Regions from separate parts of the Homo sapiens genome. Here region 2 is linked to region 1. The links come from fine-mapping of genetic effects on gene expression. Tissue or cell type: cerebellum. Region 1 holds a variant in brackets; the other region holds the start of a gene. All regions are shown on one strand. Distances are from middle to middle.

Region 1 (10,628 bases):
ACAATGGTGCAATCTCGGCTCACTGCAGCCTCTGCCTCCTGGGTTCAAATGATTCTCGTACCTCATCCTCCTGAGTCGCTGGGACTGCAGCTGTGCACCACCATGCCTGGCTACTTTTTGTATTTTTAGTAGAGACAGGGTTTCACCATGTTGGCCAGGCTGGTCTCGAACTCCTGGCTTCAAGTGATCCACCCGCCTAGGCCTCCCAAAGTGCTGGTATTACAGGTGTGAGCTACCGTGCCCAGCCACAAGACTTGTCTCTTAAGGAAAAAAAAAAAGAATTACAAATTATAAATGCATTGTGAAATGTGAAAACACATTGTCATTTTCTAAAGATCCAAATCAGGACACGGTCTCTCATTTAACATCCAAAACAGTCTTAGCAACAGAAACGTGAAAGAAACACAATTAATGGAGTCTATTGGCCATTTTGGATTTTGAGGTTAACAGTGGTATTAACCAAAATAGAAGATAATCTAAAAATCACTTCTGTTTGCCTTTGATACACAGTATGATATCCCCAGTCTGCAGGGAAAGTCCCAGAAATTTGCAGGTAGGACAACCAACCTGAGCATTGAGATTTGTCCCAGATCATCCAACCAGTGGGCAATCCCCAAGCTTCCTGCAAATCAGGAATGCTGTCCTGCTGAGCCAGGAGGACAAGCCCTGTACAGCCTTCCTGGCCAGTGGCATGCACACACAGCCAGGGTCCCTTTCAAGCTGTCGGAGGCAACTGCTGTGAGGTCAGCCAGCAGCTTGGAGCCGAATTCTGGCAGCGTGACTGCAGAGGATCCTGTAACCTAGCTCCTTACTTGCGGGATTCAGCGAGACAACAGTCACTCTCCTGGCGTCTGTACATCCCGAGAGCCAGTATCTTCCAAGCTGAGGTTTGTCTTGGGATGTGACAGCAGTCAGGAGACCGCATCTGACCCTGAGGTGTCCCTTTTTCCTCGGTGCAGGAATTTATGTTCAAGTTCACGCGGAGGGAGCCCTGGATTGGACTACGCAGAGTTGGGGACGAATTCCACTGGGTCAACGGGGACCCGTTTGATCCGGACACGTGAGCTGAGGCTTCATCTTCTGGCTACCGAGCTTAGACTGAGAAAGGCCTGACTCACCCCCTGGACACAACTCCCGAAGAGAGAAGCCCTTGTTTTGTGCTAGCTAGAGATACTAGTCTCGGGGTCCAGCAGTGTGCGCCAGAGACCCAGCCATGAAAATGTCTGTACTTCTCCCTCTCTCATAAAAGTCCAGCCTGGCTTGGTGGCTCTGCCCTGCAAAGCCATCAGAGCTTCGCGGTGTCCGGCCCAGGGTCTCTCCACCCTTGAGTCCCTGATCTGTGCAGCCTGGCGCTTGTCGGCTCCACTCAGTGTGGCGCAACCACATCCCATTCAGCCAGAACGGGACAGAGAATGGGAGGGAGGGCCCTGGATGGCCTCACCCCATTGGCCAGAACTTAGTCACATGGCCGCACCTGGCCGCAAGGGAGGATGGGAGATGCGCCTCTGTCCCGGGCAGCCTCGTGCCACCTAAGCACTGTAGCTGTGGAAGAAAGGGGATCTGAAGGCAGGCACCTGGGAGTGTTCTAGGTCACATTTTACTGGCGAACGCATCTCTTGATGGACGGAGCGCTGCTGAGGTGGTGGCGTGTGCCGTGGCGGTTTTGTAAGACTCAAGTGGAGTGGATGTGAGTGTGTGATGCCAGGTCTGGTGTGTGGTGTGGGGGTGATGGTCATGGGCGGAGTGGGTGGCAGATGTGTGGCTGTGGCAGTACAGTGGTGACTGTGTGGGGCGTGGGGAAAGGAGTGGTCTAGGCCGAGAGAAATGCAGGGAAGTGTGCAGAGGGAAGTGGGACCCGCAGAACAGACCCTGTGGCTGGAGGAATAGGCTCTGAGGTGCCAGCCGGAGGGCATGGGGTGGGGTGGGGAACACAGCTCCTAACCCGATGATGATGATGATGCGTGAACGTCCCCAAGGCAGGGGCTAAAGCAGAAGGGCATCTGAGACCCTGGGATCCTCCTGGTTGCCAGAGGTGGCCATCAGCTGCCCTCCCACCTGAGGATGGCTTAGGCAGTCACGCCCATGGCAGCCCTGGAGGCAGGGGCATTCATGATGCTTCCCCTCCTCCTCCTTTTCCTTATCTCAAGCACTCTTCATTTTTGCCCTTACTCTGGCCTCAGTGCCCCTTCCTTATCTCACCCCCTTTCCTGTCCCCCTCTCAGGTCTGCTCTCTCAGAGTGGCTGAGGAGGTCTTGCGCTTTGCACCCCTCTCCCTGCTTTTCTGGAAGCTTCTTGCTCTCAGAGCCCTGCAGGCTGGGGTCCGTGGCGTGCTGACCACCTGACAACCAAGGGGCCGTTGGCCACATTTCTCAGACACTGCAGAGGTCCTTTCCCTTGCACTCCTTCTTGGGGTCCTTCCAATGCCCTCTGTTGTGAGGGTCTACCTCCAGCCTTGGCAGGGATCGGAGGTCCGGGTGAACAACTAAGGCTAAGAAGAAACCTCTGAGGCTGGAAAGGGGTGATTTGAGGTAGGGGGGAATCCTCCCACCACACCCATCTGTGTGTGATGTCAATGAGTTCCTGTGCAACCCAGCCTCAGTTAGCCCATATTGGGGTCATTGCAGCCTACCCCTAACCTGTGAGGGGTAGCTGACTTCAGCCAGCTCTGCAGAGCTCCTCCTGTGTGCTCAACTCTGCGCACTGCAGGGAGCCAAGATGAGAGCGCACAGAGCTCACTGCTCAGGAGATGGCTGCTTTGGGGACCTGTGTGGACAGACAGGTAGAGGCCCCAGGGGGCTATGGGAGTGCCCCACAGAGCAGGCAGGGGACTGTGGGGAAGTAGAGTGGGCAGAGAGTGGCCCTGAACTGGGTGCCATGGAGCCTGGGACATGTGAGCCGACCCTGCAAGGACATTGAGAATGGGGAAGTGCATGTGTGTCCAGGAAATGTCTCAGCAGCGTGCCAGGGTGGCTGGAGCTACGGTGCACAGAGTAGGGAGACAATGGGATGCCAAGCTAGAACAGTCTGTTGGCCCAAATGTCCTAGAAGGCAGCTCCAGTGATGAAGTGAGGGAGGGATAGGTCACAGGGCCTCCATGGCCTCCCCTGCCACTGGGTTTTGGGCTGAATGTTCCAGATCATAAACGCCTGGTCTTCTCTCCTGGCCACAGGTTCACCATCGCAGGTCCAGGGGAGTGTGTCTTCGTGGAGCCCACCAGGCTGGTGTCGACGGAGTGTCTGATGACCCGGCCCTGGGTGTGCAGCAAGATGGCCTATACTTGAGGTGGGTGGGGCCAGAGGTGGCCCCGCCCCTAGGCCTGTGGGAGGTGTCTGGTGTCTGCTCAAGACCTGCTTCCAGCGGAGCCGCCTGCCCTCTGCAAGGCGAAGCGGTGGGTGCGTGGCCTCCGCCCCAGGCCCCTCTCCCAGGCCCTGGCGCTCTGAGTCCCTGGTTCCTGGCCTCCTTTGTCTGCAGGCAGGTCGTGTGGCTCAGCAGTTAAATCCCATATGCTAGGTAGTGTAGGCATCTGCCCACCTACACACACACACATGCATAGGTACACGCACGCACAGACGCTGTCCCTTCTGAAGCTCAGTGTCCATCCTGAGCCACCCCACAGATCTCTCTCCGGCCCCCTAGAAGCCCTCTCCTCACTGCAGCCCTGGTGCTCTGGGGAAGGAGGGGCATTGACAGGTGGTTTGACTGTTCACCCAGCAGCCCCGCTTCCCCACTGGTTTCTCTCCTGGCTGCCGGCGGAGGTAGGCTGGGAAAGCTTCCCCCTCACCTAGGCCGGGCCAGCCCCGCCCCGGGCCCCAGAGGTCCCCTGCATCCCCCTTCTTTGCCTTGCCTGGGTTCTCAGGCAGGGCCCCTGCTGTGTCCGTGGTGCTGTTGTATTGGTCACTAACGGAATAAAGAGTTAATATCTCATGTCCAGAGAAGTCTGCCGCCATTTGTTCCAGAGTCAGAGCTCGGGGAGGGGCAGAGAGGGGCACATCTCTGGGTGCCAGTCTGTGGGGGCTACCACAAAATGCACCTGCTCTAGTGCAGCAGATAGCGGTGTGTGAGGATGAAAAAAAAGCACCTTCTGGCCTCAGGACATCGTTTCATGTTGCTAAGCCTTTAAGGTATTCTTACGTGGCTGTTCCAGCTCCTTCATTGCTAGTCACCTCAAGATGACAAACGTTTATTCACACCTACCGCAAGCCAGACACCACACCAGGCATGGGGGATCTCTGGCCTTAATCCCCCAAGAAGCACGCAAGGAGCAGAGGAAACAGTTCAGAAAGTGCTAGAACATTCTGGAACATAGTCAAGGGATGGTTTATTCTGCATCGGGGCAGGATGGAATGAAGTGAACATGAAAATTAGGTGGTGTTCACATTGGGCTGGAAAAGAGTTTGTGAAAGTCTTATGGCCTCTTCCTATCCCCCTTGAGCTGCCTGGGGAGGAAGCAGTCGGGGCATGGGGTTGGCAGGCAATGCCCTCGGGTCTGTGGGGGCTCCATGCTCTCCTCCACACACACTTGAGGCTCCAGCTGTGGAGCCCAGGCCTCTCCAGCCTCCTGATAACCCCGGGCAGATGAGATGTGGGTGGCCTGCCTGGGAGCCCAGTGTGTGCATTTGGGTCCTGGCCCATTTTCAGAAAATAGCTCAGAGAAAC[C/T]GGGTCCTGCTGTGCTCTGCACAGTCCTAGTACTGGTTTTACAGTCTTCAGACAAAACCACCAACTTGGGTTTGTTACATTTTCCGCGTGCTTTCCAGATATTTCATAAAATACAGGTGGTTTATGGTTTTATATTTTGCTGTCACTGGGAAGCCAGTGGGGCACCTGAGTATACAATAAAGTAGTTAAGGGAATTCAGCTGGTGATGGTGGGCCTGTAGGGGTGGCTGTGAGGGGCTGAGGGGCGAGGAAGTGGTCAGCTGCTGCCACTTCTCCGGTGGGAGTCCCACACTCCCACCTGTTCTCAGTTACATATAAGCCCGTGTTTCTCACCAGTATCCACCCCTCAAAGACAGTGAGGTTCAAAAGCCTCAGTACTTTTTGCTTTACATATGGCAGCTCCCTTAATTCTTGCAGAGATGCCCGAGGCAGGGCACACTTCCAAAGGTGAGTAAACTACCTTGCCAGAGTCCTGAGAACCACGTGGCCGAGGGCTTCAGAGCCCTGCTTTCCTCCTGCCCTGGGAGTTCAGGGAAGCAATGTGAGAGGACACAGAATGGGTAACCTGTGCCGTTCGGGTTTTATTTTATTTATTATTTATTTATTTATTTTTCTGAGAAAGACTCTCACTCTGTCGCCCAGGCTGGAGTGCAGTGGCGCAATCTTGGCTCACTGCAACCTCTGCCTCCTGGGTTCAAGTGATTCTCCTGCCTCAGCCTCCCGAGTAGCTGGGACTACAGGTGAGTGCCACCATGCCTGGCTAATTTTTGTATTTTTAGTAGAGACAGGGTTTCACCATGTTGGCCAGGCTGGTCTTGAACTCCTGACCTCAGGTGATCTGCCTGCCTCGGCCTCCCAAGGTGCTGGGATTACAGATGTGAGCCACTGCGTCTGACCTGGGTTTTATTTTTTATTAAATGATCCAAAGCCTCCTGCCTGAAGCTTTTAAAGCCTAGTGGCAAATAAGCTCTTTTAACTTTAGGTTTGTCCTGGGACCATGCAACAATTCTAAATCAGTTTGGCAGAGCATGTGCCCTGATCCAGGGTCATCCATGTTCAGGCCGGGTGCAGTGGCTCATGCCTGTAATCCCAGCACTTTGGGAGGCCAAGGCAGGTGGATCATGAGGTCAGGAGTTTGAGACCAGCCTGACCAACATGGTGAAACCCCGTCTCTACTAAAAATACAAAAATTAGCTGGGCATGGTGGCGGGCGCCTGTAATCCCAGCTACTCAAGAGGCTGAGGCAGAGAATTGCTTGAACCTGGGACACGGAGGTTGCAGTGAGCCGAGATCGCACCACTGCACTCCAGCCTGGGCGACAGAGGGAGACTCTGTCTTAAAAAAAAAAAAGAAAGATTTTTTCAAACTCTTTTCTACCAATGAAGGAAGTACAAGATAAAAACAAAACCCTGTACACCTAACTTCAGAAATGTCAGAAATCCTTCCAAGGGTTACAGACCAGCCAGGCCACCCCTGTCCCCTTTGTGGGCTGAACAACAGGCTCAGTTTGCGTGGCCTTGGCACCCCGTGCTGTGTTCTCAGCAGCTAGAGGCAGCAGCACTGAGGGCAGACATGCTACTTGTTTCTGATCCCCAGAGCTCATGTCTCCTTCAGCAAGGAGGGTCTGTAGGACCGCATCTCCCCAAGTCTCGCTCCTTATCCCCTGGGGCAGATTTTTCCTTTTTGGGGTGACTGGCCTTGGAGCTCAGAGCTGGGGAAGGTGCTCCCTAGGCAAATTTGAGCCCTAATCCCAGTAGGCAGGGGGCTAGTAGAAGCCGGAGCACACACACAGCCACGCACAGAGGTACTTTGTGATGGAGGATACCCAGGAGAGACTTTTTTTTTTATTTAATTTTATTTATTATTTATTATTATTATTATTATCTGAGACGGAGTCTCGCTGTCACCCAGGCTGGAGTGCAGTGGCGTGATCTCGGCTCACTGCAACCTCCGCCTCCCAGGTTCCAGCAATTCTCCTGCCTCAGCCTCCCAAGTAACTGAGATTACAGGCGTACACCACCACGCCCAGCTAATTTTTTGTATTTTTAGTAGAGACAGGGTTTCACCATGTTGGTTAGGCTAGTCTCGAACTCTTGACCTCTTAATCTGCCCGCCTTGTCCTCCCAAAGTGCTGGGATAACAGGCATGAGCCACCGCGCCTGGCCTATTATTTATTTTTTTTGAAAGGGAGTCTTGCTTTGTTGCCCAGGCTGGAGTGCAGTGGTGCGATCTCAGCTCACTGCAACCTCTGCCTCTCGAGTTCAAGTGATTCTCCTTCCTCAGCCTCCTGAGTAGCTGGGATTACAGGCACGTGCCACCATGCCTGGGTAATTTTTGTGTTTTTAGTAGAGATGGGGTTTTGCCATGTTGGCCAGGCTGGTCTCAAACTCCTGACTTCAGGTGATCTGCCTGCCTTGGCCTCCCAAAGTGCTAGGATTACAGGCATAAGCCACTGCTCCCGGCCCTAGGAAAGACTTTTTAAGAAGCTTTACTGGGTGGTAGCATTTGGTGCTGTCCTAGAGGATTAACTAGTATTGTATGCATCTTCCTCATAGCCCTGCCAGGTCAGCATGATCAGCCCAGCTCAGCAGCTATGGGACTTGCCCCATAGTATACAGTTGGGAGGTGGCAAAGCCAGGATTTGTTGGGTGGTGGCAAAGCCAGGATTTGAACCCAGACCCATCCCCACAGGGACCTCGGAAAGCTGCATGTATGGCAGGTGAGCTGCATGTGTCAGGTGAGCTGCATGTGTGGCAGGTGAGCTGCCTGCTGTGCTGGCCAGCCCTGAGGATGGAGCGGCACTGGTGGGTGTGCCAGTGGCTGAGAAGGGGCCACCCTGGGAAAGGACATCTGCATGCCCACGGGCAATTCTTTTTCTGGATGACTTTATCTTCATCACACGATATTCAGTGAATTACCCATGGAAGAGTGGGTGATGTGAAGAATGACTTCTGTCCTTCTCTTCCTTTAAGGCCCAGCTCCAGCCTCCCTGGGATGCCTCCCTGGCAGCAACAGCACTCGTGACCACTCCCTTTGCCCAAAGTCTCTGCCTCTTAAGACTGAGCCTCTTACATGGCCCTGTGTCTGTGTGGCCTTGTCATCTTGTGACTCTTCTCTTTGTGTCATCTGACCATTCCTGTCATCTGACCATTCCTGTCATCTGATTATAAGCCTCTCCATAGTGGCCCCTAGATGGCAGGGACTGTGTGTTTTTGGTCTCTTTTTAGTACACATAGCAGATGCTCAGAAATTGCTGTATATGATAATAAGATTGCCTGTAGTGTCATCTGTGAACTATTTGCTATGGTGGGAGGTAGTGATGGCTGGCTATTGTCCAGAGCCTTGTCTTTTTGGTTTTGGTGGCATGATTTCAGAGGCACAGCCAATGTGAGCTCCTTGCTTATGTTAAATGAGCTCATTCACATTCCCTAAGTGTGCACATGCTGGATGGGTTGAGGGTGGGGTGGCCCAAAAGTCCAGGGGTGCTGAGGGAAAGCTGCCTCTATCTCCCGAGTGTCCTTCACATCACACACTAAGCCCAGTGATGAGGAGACAGCTGGAAGAGGAAGCCAGGCCCGGGAATGTTGTCATCAGTGACCGGGGTTGGTTTTGAAGGGTCCTGCGATCACTGGGAAAATCCTGTCCATATGATATCACTGTATTGTTCTGTGAGAGGTGACCTGGTTTTCAGAAATGCCCACTCTCTGCTGAGTGCTTGCACCAGAAGCAGGTGGAGGGGTATCTGCCTGTTTCCTCTTGGTCTGTGGCCAGCTCCAAACTGTAAGTATGGGATTCAAATTGGGAGCAACAAGAAAGCCCCTTGCCACACCCATCAGAGATTCCCCGCTGTCTGCCACGGCAGCCTGGAGTGGACGCACTATATACAGCTCCCAAGGCCTGCCTGAATCTGGGTCTGGTTCTACCAACAAGCAGTTGTGTAGCTCAGGCCGCCACATGAAACCTCTCTGACCTCAAGCTTTACATCTGTCTATAAGGCTGGAATAATAATTGCCCTGCTGACTTCACAGGGCTTTGAGAATTGTAAATGTTAATATTTCAGGGGCTAGAAATGATCTACCCCATCTCACTATCCATGAGGCCCAGAGCAGTTAAGTAACACATCCTAGGTCATGTCACTCAGGCCGTGTGGCTCTCCTGTTCTGCTTTATATTCATTATTGCACGTGTCATGCTTTGTTCAATTGTTTACTAGTCCATCATTCATGCAGAGGTGTGAGCTCCTAGAGAGCAGGGACCCAGTCTCACACTCCTTTGTAGCCCTAGCACCTGGTACATACAGAAGGTGCTCCATAAATGTGTGTTGAATTAAACTGATCTTGCCTCCGGGTTCAAATCCTCTTTTCTTTACACCATGCTGTCTGTGATCCTAGAAACCCACATTTCCAATTCAGCTGCCCACAAAGTAGGAAACTTGCAGATGGTTTTGAGAAAAAGATAAATGAGATGACCAGCCACTTAGGATATCTATTAGGGTTCTGTGGTTTAGAGGACAGACTCCTTTTCAGCAGATAAATATACAACGAAGACAAAATTGGAACAACAATACCTGGAATAAGAGTAATAATAAATTGGAATAACAATAACAACATTAATTAAGAGCTTCTTATGGACTAGGTATTGTGCAAAGCATTGTGCTAGCTTCTGTAACAATACCCAAATTTCAGAGGCTGGCCCTTCACATCTGTGGGTTCTGCATCCGCGGGTTCAACCAACCATGGATTGAAACTATTTGAAAAACAAACAATAAAAGAACATAATATAGCAATTATTTGCAGTGGCTCATGCCTGTAATCCTAGCACTTTGGGAGGCCAAGACAGGTGGATCACCTGAGGTCAGGAGTTCGAGACGAGCCTGGGCAACATGGTGAGACCCTGTCTCTACTAAAAATATGAAAATTACCTGGGCATGGTAGCACACGCCTGTAACCCCAGCTCCTTGGGAGGCTGAGGCAGGAGAGTTGCTTGAACCCGGGAGGTGGAGGCTGCAGTGAGCCAAGATCGCGCCACTGCACGCCACAGAGTGAGACTCTGTCTCAAAAAAAAAAAAAACAAAAAAACCCACAATTATTTGCATAGTATTTACATTGTATTAGGTATTATAAGTAATCCAGAGATTATTTAAAGTGTACGAGAGGATATGCGTAGGTCATATGTCATTTTATATAAGAGAATTGAGGATCTGCAAATTTTGGTATCTATGGGGGGTCCTGGAGCCAATCCCTCATGGATGCAGAGGGATAACTGTATTTCTTGCTCACACCACAGACTACTGTGGGTCAGTGATAGAAACCATTTGGCTCCAATCAGGAGCCATTCACACAGCATGTGCACTGAGGGATGTGATAGGTATGACTGCCCTGCACTAATATTTGTCACTTTTCTTTGTCTCCAAGCAGATGGAAGGACTGTATTTCCTGACCTCTTGAAGTTAGGTGTCCATGTGACTTGCTTTTACCAAGGAAAAGTGACACATTGTCATTTTTAGGTGGAAGCATTTAAGAACCAATGTCTGCTTCATATTTTCCCTCCCCATTGTAGTGATTGATTTGGAGGTTCCATAAGACTGAAGCATCCTGGGATGCTAAGCCAATATGTAGGGGACAGGTTTCCTGGAGAGTTGCTTGGACTGGTTTTTTGTTTGTTTTGAGGTGGAATCTCGCTTTGTCGCCCAGGCTGGAGTGCAGTTGCGCGAGCTCAGCTCACTGCAACCTCTGCCTCCCGGTTCAAGTGATTCTCTTGCCTCAGCTTCTTCCTGAGTAGGTGGGATTACTGGCAGCTGCCACCACGCCCGGCTAATTTTTGTATTTTTAGTAGAGATGGGGTGTCACCATGTTGGTCAGGCTGGTCTTGAACTCTTGGCCTCAAGTGATACGCCCACCTTGGCCTCTCAGAGTGCTGGGATTATAGGCGTGAGCCACCGTTCCTGGCTGGCTTGGACTGTTTAAGTGAGAAA
Region 2 (10,628 bases), 23 kb before region 1:
ATAATGGCATGGTGACCTGAAGTTACAATTCAGTTGACTTAAAAGAAGGAAAGTACATGTCATTATTTTTTCAACCTCTGAATCTGTGGGCCAGGAGTCACACCTATTCCATAACTCTAAGAAAAGGAGACGGAGTCAGTATCCTGAGACACAGGGGAAGGCAGGACAGAGACATTCAGAGATGGGGACATGCACTTTGTTAGAAAGTAGTAAATAAATAAAAAAAAAAACCCTGCCCTGAAGACCAAGGGAAGACTGGTGCTGGCCAGGCTGCATTTGAAATCTTCCCAGACCTCTACTTAAGCTCACTCTAAATCTGATCAAGTTTCCTGTTGGACCTCCTTGACAGCATGTGACATGGAGGTTCACATGCAGGGGTTCCCTGGGGAATTTTAGGTGTCCGTTATAAGAGTCTAGGAATCTGAAGGGGTTTGAAAGCGGAGGGTTTACTACTTGCTACACCCTCGTGGGACAAAACTGGGTTCTGAAAGGTAAGCAGTATGTCCCCTGCTTGCTCCTGGGAGTACAGCTGGTGCAGCCTTCGTCGCCTGAGCTCAAGGAAGGGCCGTCTTAGAAACTCTACAGTCGCTCAGGGATAGAGGGCAGGTTTTTTTGTTTGTTTGTTTTTGTTTTTGTTTTGTTTTGTTTTGTTTTGATGGAATCTGGCTCTATCTCCCAGGCTGGAGTGCAGTGACATGATCTCCGCTCACTGCAAACTCTGCCTCCCGGGTTCATGCCATTCTCCTGCCTCAGCCTCCCGAGTAGCTGGGACTACAGGCACCCACCACCATGCCCGGCTAATTTTTTGTATTTTTAGTAGAGACGGGGTTTCGCAACGTTGGGCAGGCTGGTCTTGAACGCCTGATCCCAAGTGATCCACCTGCCTCAACCTCCCAAAGTGTTGGGATTACAGGCGTGAGCCACCGCGCCCGGCCTAGGGCGGGGGGTCTTGATGGGTTTTATCCATTTTCATGAGCACCTCCTTCTTGAGGAAGTGGACCCTTTCACAGCCGTAAGGGTCATTGTCTTTTGGGTTCCCCCCAAAACATACCCTGACACAAGGATTTAAGTGCAAGTAATTTATTTCGGAAGTGATCCCAGGAAGCATCAGGAGAGGAGCAGGGAAGCTGACAAGGGCGTGCGGGGACTCTGGGAGGCTTAGATCCTACCTCTGATAGGTCCTGAAGTATTGTGATTGACTGTCGGAAGCCTTCTAAGGTCAGCGCCACTGCCGATGCGTTGGTATTACACCTTTGTTACTCCTTTTATCTTAACCGTTTATTTCAAGAGTTTCTTTGCTGATCTGCTCCCAGACTGGTTTGTACCTGGTACCAAAGTTAATTTTCTTTTTTTTATTTTTTATTTTTTATTTTATTATTTTTTTTTTTATTGATCATTCTTGGGTGTTTCTCGCAGAGGGGGATTTGGCAGGGTCACAGGACAATAGTGGAGGGAAGGTCAGCAGATAAACAAGTGAATAAAGTTCTCTGGTTTTCCTAGGCAGAGGACCCTGCGGCCTTCCGCAGTGTTTGTGTCCCTGGGTACTTGAGATTAGGGAGTGGTGATGACTCTTAACGAGCATGCTGCCTTCAAGCATCTGTTTAACAAAGCACATCTTGCACCGCCCTTAATCCATTTAACCCTGAGTGGACACAGCACATGTTTCAGAGAGCACAGGGTTGGGGGTAAGGTCATAGATCAACAGGATCCCAAGGCAGAAGAATTTTTCTTAGTACAGAACAAAATGAAAAGTCTCCCATGTCTACCTCTTTCTACACAGACACGGCAACCATCTGGCTCTATCTCCCAGGCTGGAGTGCAGTGACATGATCTCCGCTCACTGCAAACTCTGCCTCCCGGGTTCATGCCATTCTCCTGCCTCAGCCTCCCGAGTAGCTGGGACTACAGGCACCCACCACCATGCCCGGCAACCACGATTTCTCAATCTTTTCCCCACCTTTCCCACCTTTCTATTCCACAAAACTGCCATTGTCATCATGGCCCGTTCTCAATGAGCTGTTGGGTACACCTCCCAGACGGGGTGGTGGCCGGGCAGAGGGGCTCCTCACTTCCCAGTAGGGGCGGCCGGGTAGAGGCGCCCCTCACCTCCCGGACGGGGCGGCGGCCGGGCGGGGGGCTGATCCCCCCACCTCCCTCCGGGACGGGGCGGCTGGCCGGGCGGGGGGCTGACCCCCCCATCTCCCTCCCGGACGGGGTGGCTGCCGGGCGGAGACGCTCCTCACTTCTCAGACAGGGCGGTTGCCAGGCAGAGGGTCTCCTCACTTCTCAGACGGGGCGGCCGGGGAGAGACGCTCCTCACATCCCGGACGGGGCGACAGGGCAGAGGCGCTCCCCACATCTCAGACGATGGGCGGCCGGGCAGAGGCGCTCCTCACATCCCAGACGGGGCGGCGGGGCAGAGACGCTCCTCACTTCCTAGATGGGATGGCGGCCGGGAAGAGGCACTCCTCACTTTCCAGACTGGGCAGCCAGGCAGAGAGGCTCCTCACATCCCAGACGATGGGCGGCCAGGCAGAGACGCTCCTCACTTCCCAGACTGGGCAGCCAGGCAGAGAGGCTCCTCACATCCCAGATGATGGGCGGCCAGTCAGAGACGCTCCTCACTTCCCAGACGGGGTGGCAGCCGGGCAGAGGCTGCAATCTCGGCACTTTGGGAGGCCAAGGCAGGCGGCTGGGAGGTGGATGTTGTAGCGAGCCGAGATCACGCCACTGCACTCCAGCCTGGGCACCATTGAGCACTGAGTGAAGGAGACTCCGTCTGCAATCCCGGCACCTCGGGAGGCCGAGGCTGGCGGATCACTCGCGGTTAGGAGCTGGAGACCAGCCCGGCCAACACAGCGAAACCCTGTCTCCACCCAAAAAATACGAAAACCAGTCAGGCGTGGCGGCGCGCCCCTGCAATCGCAGGCACTCGGCAGGCTGAGGCAGGAGAATCAGGCAGGGAGGTTGCAGTGAGCCGAGATGGCAGCAGCACAGTCCAGCTTCGGCTCGGCATCAGAGGGAGACCGTGGAAAGAGGGGAGAGGGAGAGGGAGGGGGAGGGGGAGGGGGAGGGAGAGGGAGAGCCCAAAGTTAATTTTCCTAAAGCATGGTGTGATCATGACCTTTCTCTGCTCAAACACCTTTGATGCTTCCTTGTGCCTACATGAAGTCTGAAGCTTTGGGCCTGGTGTTCCAATGGGGCACTGCCCTAGGAATGGGGGATAGAGCAGTGCCTCTGCCCTCACCCCACAGCTGGCCATCTGGTTGGGGATCAAACAATGACAGTAGGATGTGGCAAGTGCTATGGGAAGAGAGGTGGAGAGTGTTCCAAAGGCCCAAAGGACAGGTGCCACAGTCTGGGATCACAGGAGGCTTAGGAGGCAGGGATTGCTGGTCATGCACATATTCCATTCCCCCCTTCTTCCTAACAGAATCTCTGCATTATTGAGCGTGGCAATGGCTTTAGCTAATTGCCACTATACTCCACAAACTTACTTGAGAAAGAAGTGTCCAGTGGAAGGTAAGTGGAAATCACTGGGGGTTCCAGAAAAACTCTTTAAAGGAGTCTGATTCAACAAGAGGCATGCCCTTTTCCCCTTGGTTCTTCCTCTTTCTGTAATCTGGTGTGCAGGTGTGATGGCTGGAACCACAGTGGCTATAGTGTGACCATGAGGGAATCCTGAAGATGTAGGCTATATACTAAGGATGATGGGAGCAGAATGAGAGGAAGAGCTAGGGTCCCTGATGATCTTGGAGCTCTCAATCCAGCCCTGGGCTGATCACCTCTAGACTTCTTTCAGGTAAAAAAAACACAAAAAACCAAAAAACAAAAAACAAAAACCTTCTTTCTAGTTAAACTCTTACTGGGGTTTTCTGTTGTAGTCTTGTTGAACCTACTCTGAATGAATGCAGTATCCTAGAGACTGTGCAATCAGAAGCATTAGCAGAAATTTGGTAGGCAAACTAGGGTGCATGGGGGCTACAAGGAGGGGTTAGAAGGACCAAGGAGGAGATGTGTTCCAGGCAGAAGGAAGACAGTGTTCAAAGGCCCAGAGGAAAGAGTCAGAATAGTTAGGTGTGTCTAGGGCTGGCAGAGAAGGGGTGGGAGGAGAGGATGCCTTAGGTAGGAGCAGGACTTTGACCATGAGGGACCTTGAGGCCTTGTAAAAAGATGGCCTTAATCCACAGGTAAAGGGACCCCTGAAGGAGTGGTGAGTTTGCACTTTAGGTAGATGCTGCGGGTGTGGAGGGGGAGGGGCTGGATAGGAGGGAGCAAGAGTGGAGGATGGGAGACCCCTTAGAAGGCTGCTGCTGTGGTCGGGCAAGAGAAGGCATTGGCTTGTACTTGGCCAGTGGCTAGAGGGATGGAGTGCAATGCGCAGACTAAGAGTTTAAAAGGGGCCGGGCGGCCGGGCGCGGTGGCTCACGCCTGTAATCCCAGCACTTTGGGAGGCCGAGGCGGGCGGATCACGAGGTCAGGAGATCGAGACCATCCCGGCTAAAACGGTGAAACCCCGTCTCTACTAAAAATACAAAAAAATTAGCCGGGCGTAGTGGCGGGCGCCTGTAGTCCCAGCTACTTGGGAGGCTGAGGCAGGAGAATGGCGTGAACCCGGGAGGCGGAGCTTGCAGTGAGCCGAGATCCCGCCACTGCACTCCAGCCTGGGCGACAGAGCGAGACTCCGTCTCAAAAAAAAAAAAAAAAAAAAAAAGGGGCCGGGCACGGCAGCTCACGCCTGCAATCCTAGAACTTTGGGAGACCCAGGTGGGAGGATCGCTTGAGCCTGGGAGGCCGAGGCTGTAGTGACACTGCACTCCAGCCTGGGCTACAGAACGAGACCCTGTCTCAAAAAATAAAAATAAAAATATTTTAAAAGGGAGAATTCACAAGAGTCAGTGGCCTATTGGATTTGGGGGAGGGAGCAGGAGGAGCTGGGGATGAGGAACTGAAGATGGAGACAGGAACCAGAGGTTGGGGCTGAGAATGGTGGAGGGGGAAGAGGATCAGGGCTGGAGGCGTGGGGCTTCAGGCGACGCGAGGTCAGCTGAGGCAAGGGGCCAGTGAAGGCTCCGGAGGGAGCCCTGGCCTGGGAGTCAGACACCCGCCAAGCACGCACCTGCCTGGCGCCGCCTTCGGAAATGTCCTTGACCTCAAAATTCCACTTCTCAGCCTCACCTGGGGGCATTGTCAGCTAATAATATGTGAAAGTCCCTGGCGCTTAGTAGGTGCTCAATAAATGTTAATTGAATCTGCAACGTCACTTCGCTTGCTCCTTTAGACTCTACTGTCTCTGTGCTCATCGTTCGGACGTTTCTCTCCTTTATCAAGAGTTTGGGGGTCAAGTCACAGCCCCTACCACCCTCTGCTGTGGCTCCAGGGCAGCCGGGAAGAAAGGCGCTCATCTTCCCTGAGCCTCCCTGCACTGTCCCCGCGAACTTTATTCCCATTTTCACAGATGGTGAGCAGGCGGCTGGGGAGATGGAGCTGAGTTAGAACCAGGTCTCCCGGCTCCAAGACTGCGCTCCCAGCTCGACAGCATCCAGCCTCCAGCCCAGGTGGCGGGGTCGGGGAGCCGGCTGTCCCCGCTCCTCCGCGCCTCCTCCCTCTCCGCCCCTGCCCCGCCCCGCCCGGGTCCACGGCTCCCGGCTCCCGCGCGCCGCCTCGCGCTCCTCCCCAGCCCGGCTGTGCGTGGAGGCTGCGGCTCGGCGGGGCAGGCGCTGAGCGCACCGCGGCGGCACCCGGCGCAGAGGCTCCAGCGCGGGGAGCCGGGCTCAGCCCCGGCCTGCCAGCGCCGCGGTCCTAGCCCACCCGAGGCCGGCCTGGGGGGCCCGCAGGGCGCGCGGAGCGCCGAGTGCGCGTCGGGCTGGGCCCCGCACCCCGGTGCAGGAGCGCGGGCGCGGCGCGGCGGAGCGCCCCGCATGGAGCCGGCCCGGGAGCCCCCCTCGCGGGCCCGGCCGCCGCCGCCCCTCGCCGCGCGCCCCGCGCCCGCCCCCGCCGCCCCCAGGCCGCGTTCGCCCGCAGAGGCTGAGGCCCGCGGCCCCGAGGGGCTGCTGCGGCGATCCGGGTCGGGCTACGAGGGCAGCACCAGCTGGAAGGCGGCCTTGGAGGGTAAGCGCGGAGCGGCCTCCCTCTCCTGGCCCAGGGACCCCTGCCCAGGCCCGACCCGCGACCCGGAGGCGGTCAGAGTCACCTTGGCCGCTGTCCCGGAGGGGAGCGCTGGGAGCGCGGCGCCGGGACGCGGCGGAGTCATTCATTTCAGGGCGGCCAGACGCCGGTTCGTGGGGTGGGGTGGGAGGGAACCGGGGGCCACCGCGAGTCACAGCCTCGACCCCGCCTCTGCTGCGACTCCCTCTCTGACCTTGGAGCGGGCTTCACGCTCTGAGCCTTCGTCTCCTCACGCATGAAGGGGACAAACACTGCCTGACACCCACCAGACAGGCGTGTTGAGAGGGTGGCGGAATCTGTGGTCGTGAACACGCTTCGAGTAAAGTAAGAAAGCTGGAGACCCCAGAGGTGGTGCCCGCCCCTGTGAGAGCCGCGGGGACCCCGTGGTGGTGGGGCATGTGGGGAGGGCAGGGCAGGGCAGGGGTGGAGAATCCAGGAGAGGCTCTTCCTTGCAAGGTCAGGGGTCACACCTACTCCTCCATCAGACTGCCTCAGGGAGGGACCCCTGGCCTGCCTCCGGGGCAGTAACCCAAGTAGAGAATTGATTTCAAGTTCATGAGCTCTTTAAGGAAACTTGTATTAGCTACCGCCGGCGGCGTGTGGTGTGGGAGATGCAGGAGTTGGTGAGAGGGTGGCTGGCCCTTTGGGTGCTTCTCAGGGTGCTCCTGGCACCCTGAATCCAAGGACAAGGAGGACCTGGGCAGCATTAACTAGGGAAGCCTGGAGCCTGGATCACCCATCCTTAGGGAGGCAGTGTCAGAAAAGGAGGGCTTCCCAGGAGTAGGTGACCTCTTAGCAGGCGTGGAGACAGAGGGGAAGGTGTTCCAGACCCAGAGCATGACGTATCCCAGGCCAGGTGGTCAGAGCTACTCTGTGCCACGTGGGAACTGAGCCCTGGAGTACTGAGATGGGGCAGGGTGGAGAGAGACGGGCCTGAAGGACCCAGACGGTGAAGGGCCAGCCAGGCCTTGCCCAGGAGCTTGGACTTTGTTCTGAAGGGGCTACTGAGGGGTGGAGATGGTGGGCTTGCCCTTGGAAGACTGGTGGTGGCCCAGAGGGGTGGGACCCAGGCTCGAGGTCAGGGAGGGGGTGGGGCAGTGGACCAGGAGGGACATAACCAGCAGCTGGGCCAAGGCAGGTCATGGGGCTGCTGAGGATGGCGAGGTGGGGATGGTAATGCCAGCCTTCTGCACAAAGGCTATGGGCCAGGGGACGTGCACTGTCCGAGGAAGGGCTGTGCAGACTCTGAAGCTGGACCACCAGACAGTGGCAGGGACAGAGGAGGCGAAGATGTTGCGTCACCAAGGAGAAGAGCTGTAGCAGAGCTGTGGGTTGTGAAGAGTTGTGTGGAATGGATGGAGGTGGTCAGACACCCCCCCGTGACGCTGTCTCCGGCTTTACTGTTGGAGTGGCCCTGTGTTCCCACGCTTCACTCCTGCCAAAGCTATTTCTTGAAGTTGTTCCCTCCTCTTGCCTGTATTTCTTCATTCATTTATTCGTCAGCATTTCTGAAGGGTCTGCCCTAACCTTAACCCCAGCCCCCATGGTAGGGCTGCTTCTGGGCTGCTGTGGCCCTTTAATGCCTCCTGCTTGCTGTTCCTGTCCACCTCCTGCCCTGACTTCCACCCCCTTGTGCTTCCTCCTCCCCACTGTGGCTGGGCTGCCCACCTGCCAGTCAGGCTGCAGAACAGACCACACACCAAGCTGGAAGGTCACCCAGAGGCTGCCTGGGGCCCTGAGTCAAGCCCACTCCCATGCTTAGCATCTTCCTGTGGTCCAGCCTTGCCTCACCATGGCCCCCTGCCTTGCCTTGCTCTCTGACTCATGCCACCTGCAGTCCCCTCCCCTTCCTTCCCCTGGTCTCCCCAGGAGCAGTCCCACTCCTGATGGCCTGTGGTCCTTGGGTACTCAGCATCTTGGGCCTACTGACTTTTCCCACAGGAGTTTTAGAATCTGGAGTCTGAGTCTGGCCAGGGGCCTCCCTTCTGCCAGTTCTCTGAAGGTCTTCTTGGGTGCCCCCAAGCTCCTCTCTTCTGAGAGGAGCCTGGGAAAGGAGCCTGAGAGGAGACAGAGGGAAAGGTGTCCCAGACCCAGAGCACGATGTGTTCTGGGCCAGGTGGCCAGAGCTAGTTTGTCCCATGTAGGAACTGAGCCCTGGAGTACTGGGGTGGGGCAGGGTAGAGAGAGACGGGTCTGGCGGACCCAGACGGAAGGAGAGGTCCTCTTCTGGAGGACCCAGAAGAAAGGAGCTCATGGAGCAGGGCTGCTCCTCTCCAGGGTGCTGCTGCATTGGCCCAGTGCTGGCTTTTGTATTTGTCTCCATCATGCATTCATTCTTTCTGCAACATCCGGGTACCATTCTGGGCCCTGGGCACATTTATGTTCTCTCAGAGGTTCCAGGACAGGGACTGAGGCAGTGTGGGGAGGTGCAGGAAGCAGAGCATCTGGTAAAGCTGGGGCAGAGCCTTCCATTGCCACAGGCTGGCGGGCTTTCCAACTTCCTGGACCATTTGCTTCCTTATCTGCCAAGTCAGGTCATGATTTCTACCTCTCAGGTAGACAGAGGCCCTGGAGTGTGGGCTGTGTGTATGGTGACTCCTCTTCCCAGCTGCCTGGACTTGGCCTCCTGCAGCCCCTGCTGGGGGAGCCCAGGCCTAACTGCAACACTTGGACTTCTGGTCAGCCTCCCTTGATTCTGCTTCCCACCCCAAACCTGAGTCCAGAGTTCACGTAATGAAACACTGTCAATGGGAGGAGGGATCTGTCCTTTGGGGACCCAGGGTTATGCTGCCCCTGCTTAGCCAAGCACTTGTCTTGAGAGAAATGGGACATTTTCTGACTTGACTGAGCTGAACCCTCCAAGAAGTCTCTGCTCCTTTATCACCATGTGCCCAATGCACATCAAGCACCTGCTACGTGCTGGAGCCTTGCTGGGGCTTTCATAGTCATCATCTCAGTCCTCACCTCTCCCCTTGCAGGGGGGCTGGTGAGTGTTCTGTTTCATAGATGAGGGAGCCGAGACTGAGAGCCTGAGTGTCTTGCCCAAGGACATCCTTGGTTGCTATCACATGAAAGCCCTGTTGTGAAGGCTCTGACCCCTTCCTGCATGGCCAAGGACGTCAGCCTTGGTGAAGCTAGCTGGGGATCATCAAATTCCCACACACACGCTCTCCTCCCCCTGCTCCCCAGACAACCCTGCCACCTCCAGCACTGACGTTTCCCTCCTTATGGGTTAAATGAGTCAGAGAGCTTCTTAAAGCAGAAAGCTGGGATTAGAGCCCAGGTCTTTAAGACTTTTCTGAGATGAATAACTAGCTTTATAAACAGGAAGCCAAACAGAAGTTGCCTTAATCAAGTCTTTTCTCTCGCTGTAGATATGAACCTTTCCTTCCAGCCTGGGGTATAAGGCTAGAAAAGGTGACCCGGAGAGCCCGCCTGGGTTCTGGGAACAAGAGAAGTGATTCGAGATGGGCATATTTCTGGCATTGAGAGTGGCAGTGGGGCAGAGTGGCCTGGGGGTATGGGAGAGGGGACAGAGTGAGCCTGCGTGCCTCAGCCTATAGATTTTTTAGTGCTCACCGATTCTGAATTTTTAATGTTGAAAGTTTCTTGATTAGGCATAAACCCACAACTTCCTGATCAAAACCACACACATGCTTTTAGCCTCTTAAAAATTTAAAAATTACCAAACTTCACATTTGGTAGTTTTTAACAGTCAAGATTATGCTTGCCAGGCTGTGTCCCCGATGACTTAGAGACAGCAGCATGGGCCTTTTTTGGGATATGAGTGTGAGGATGATGGGAGCTTTGTCTGGGCCTGGGAGTCAGGTTTTTTCAGTTGTTCCTTCTAAAATTAGGTGAAATCACACACATTTAGAAACCTAAATAAACTACACCCTTATACGCCATCTAATATGGGCCATGGCATAGTAGGGAACAAGTAATGAGTTAGACATTTGTTAGAAGTTGAATTGTGTCCCTACCAAAAAAGAGATATTGGAGTCTTAACCTCTGGTACCTCTGAATGTGACTGCATATGGAAATACAGTCTGGCAGATTATTTGTAGTTAAGATGAGGTCAGACTGGAGTAGAGTGGGCCCTAATCCCATATGAACTGGCATCCTTATAAGAAGATGGTCACATGAAGACAAAGGCACTGTATTAGTCCGTTCTCACACTGCTAATAAAGACATACCCAAGACTGGGTAATTTATAAAGGAAAGAGGTTTAATGGACTTACAGTTCCACATGGCTGGGGAGGCTTCACAATCATGAAGGAAGGTGAAGGAGGAGCAAAGACACGTCTTACATGGTGGCAGGCAAGAGAGTGTGTGCAGAGGAACTGCCCTTTATAAAACCATCAGATCTTGTGAGACTTACTCACTATCACAAGAACAGCATGATTTGGGAAAAACCTGCCCCCATGATTCAATTACCTCCCACCCAGTCCCTCCCATGA

Direction of the effects. Positions count from the first base shown, and alleles are read on the strand shown. Sizes are in standard deviations (SD) of each study's normalised expression.
For the expression in cerebellum of the gene that starts at base 5,679 in region 2, allele C in region 1 goes with a lower level than allele T (small effect, 0.37 SD a copy in GTEx).

Evidence for each region. PIP is the estimated chance that this variant, and not a neighbour inherited with it, causes the effect.
Region 2: CLEC2L starts here. The variant in region 1 is fine-mapped to the expression of CLEC2L in cerebellum (GTEx, PIP above 0.99).

The regions. Positions count from the first base shown.
Region 1 is chr7:139,541,062-139,551,689 of GRCh38, forward strand. CLEC2L (C-type lectin domain family 2 member L) reads left to right here. Exons shown (of 5, transcript NM_001080511.4): 4 at 960-1,060; 5 at 3,170-3,924. The coding sequence ends at 3,281. Among named protein-coding and RNA genes, the nearest start is that of CLEC2L, 23 kb to the left of the region's middle. RefSeq lists enhancers at 574-1,347, 3,265-3,866. The variant C/T (reference allele first, on the strand shown) is at 4,657.
Region 2 is chr7:139,518,007-139,528,634 of GRCh38, forward strand. It overlaps CLEC2L (C-type lectin domain family 2 member L), which reads left to right and starts at 5,679. Exons shown (of 5, transcript NM_001080511.4): 1 at 5,679-6,111. The coding sequence starts at 5,922.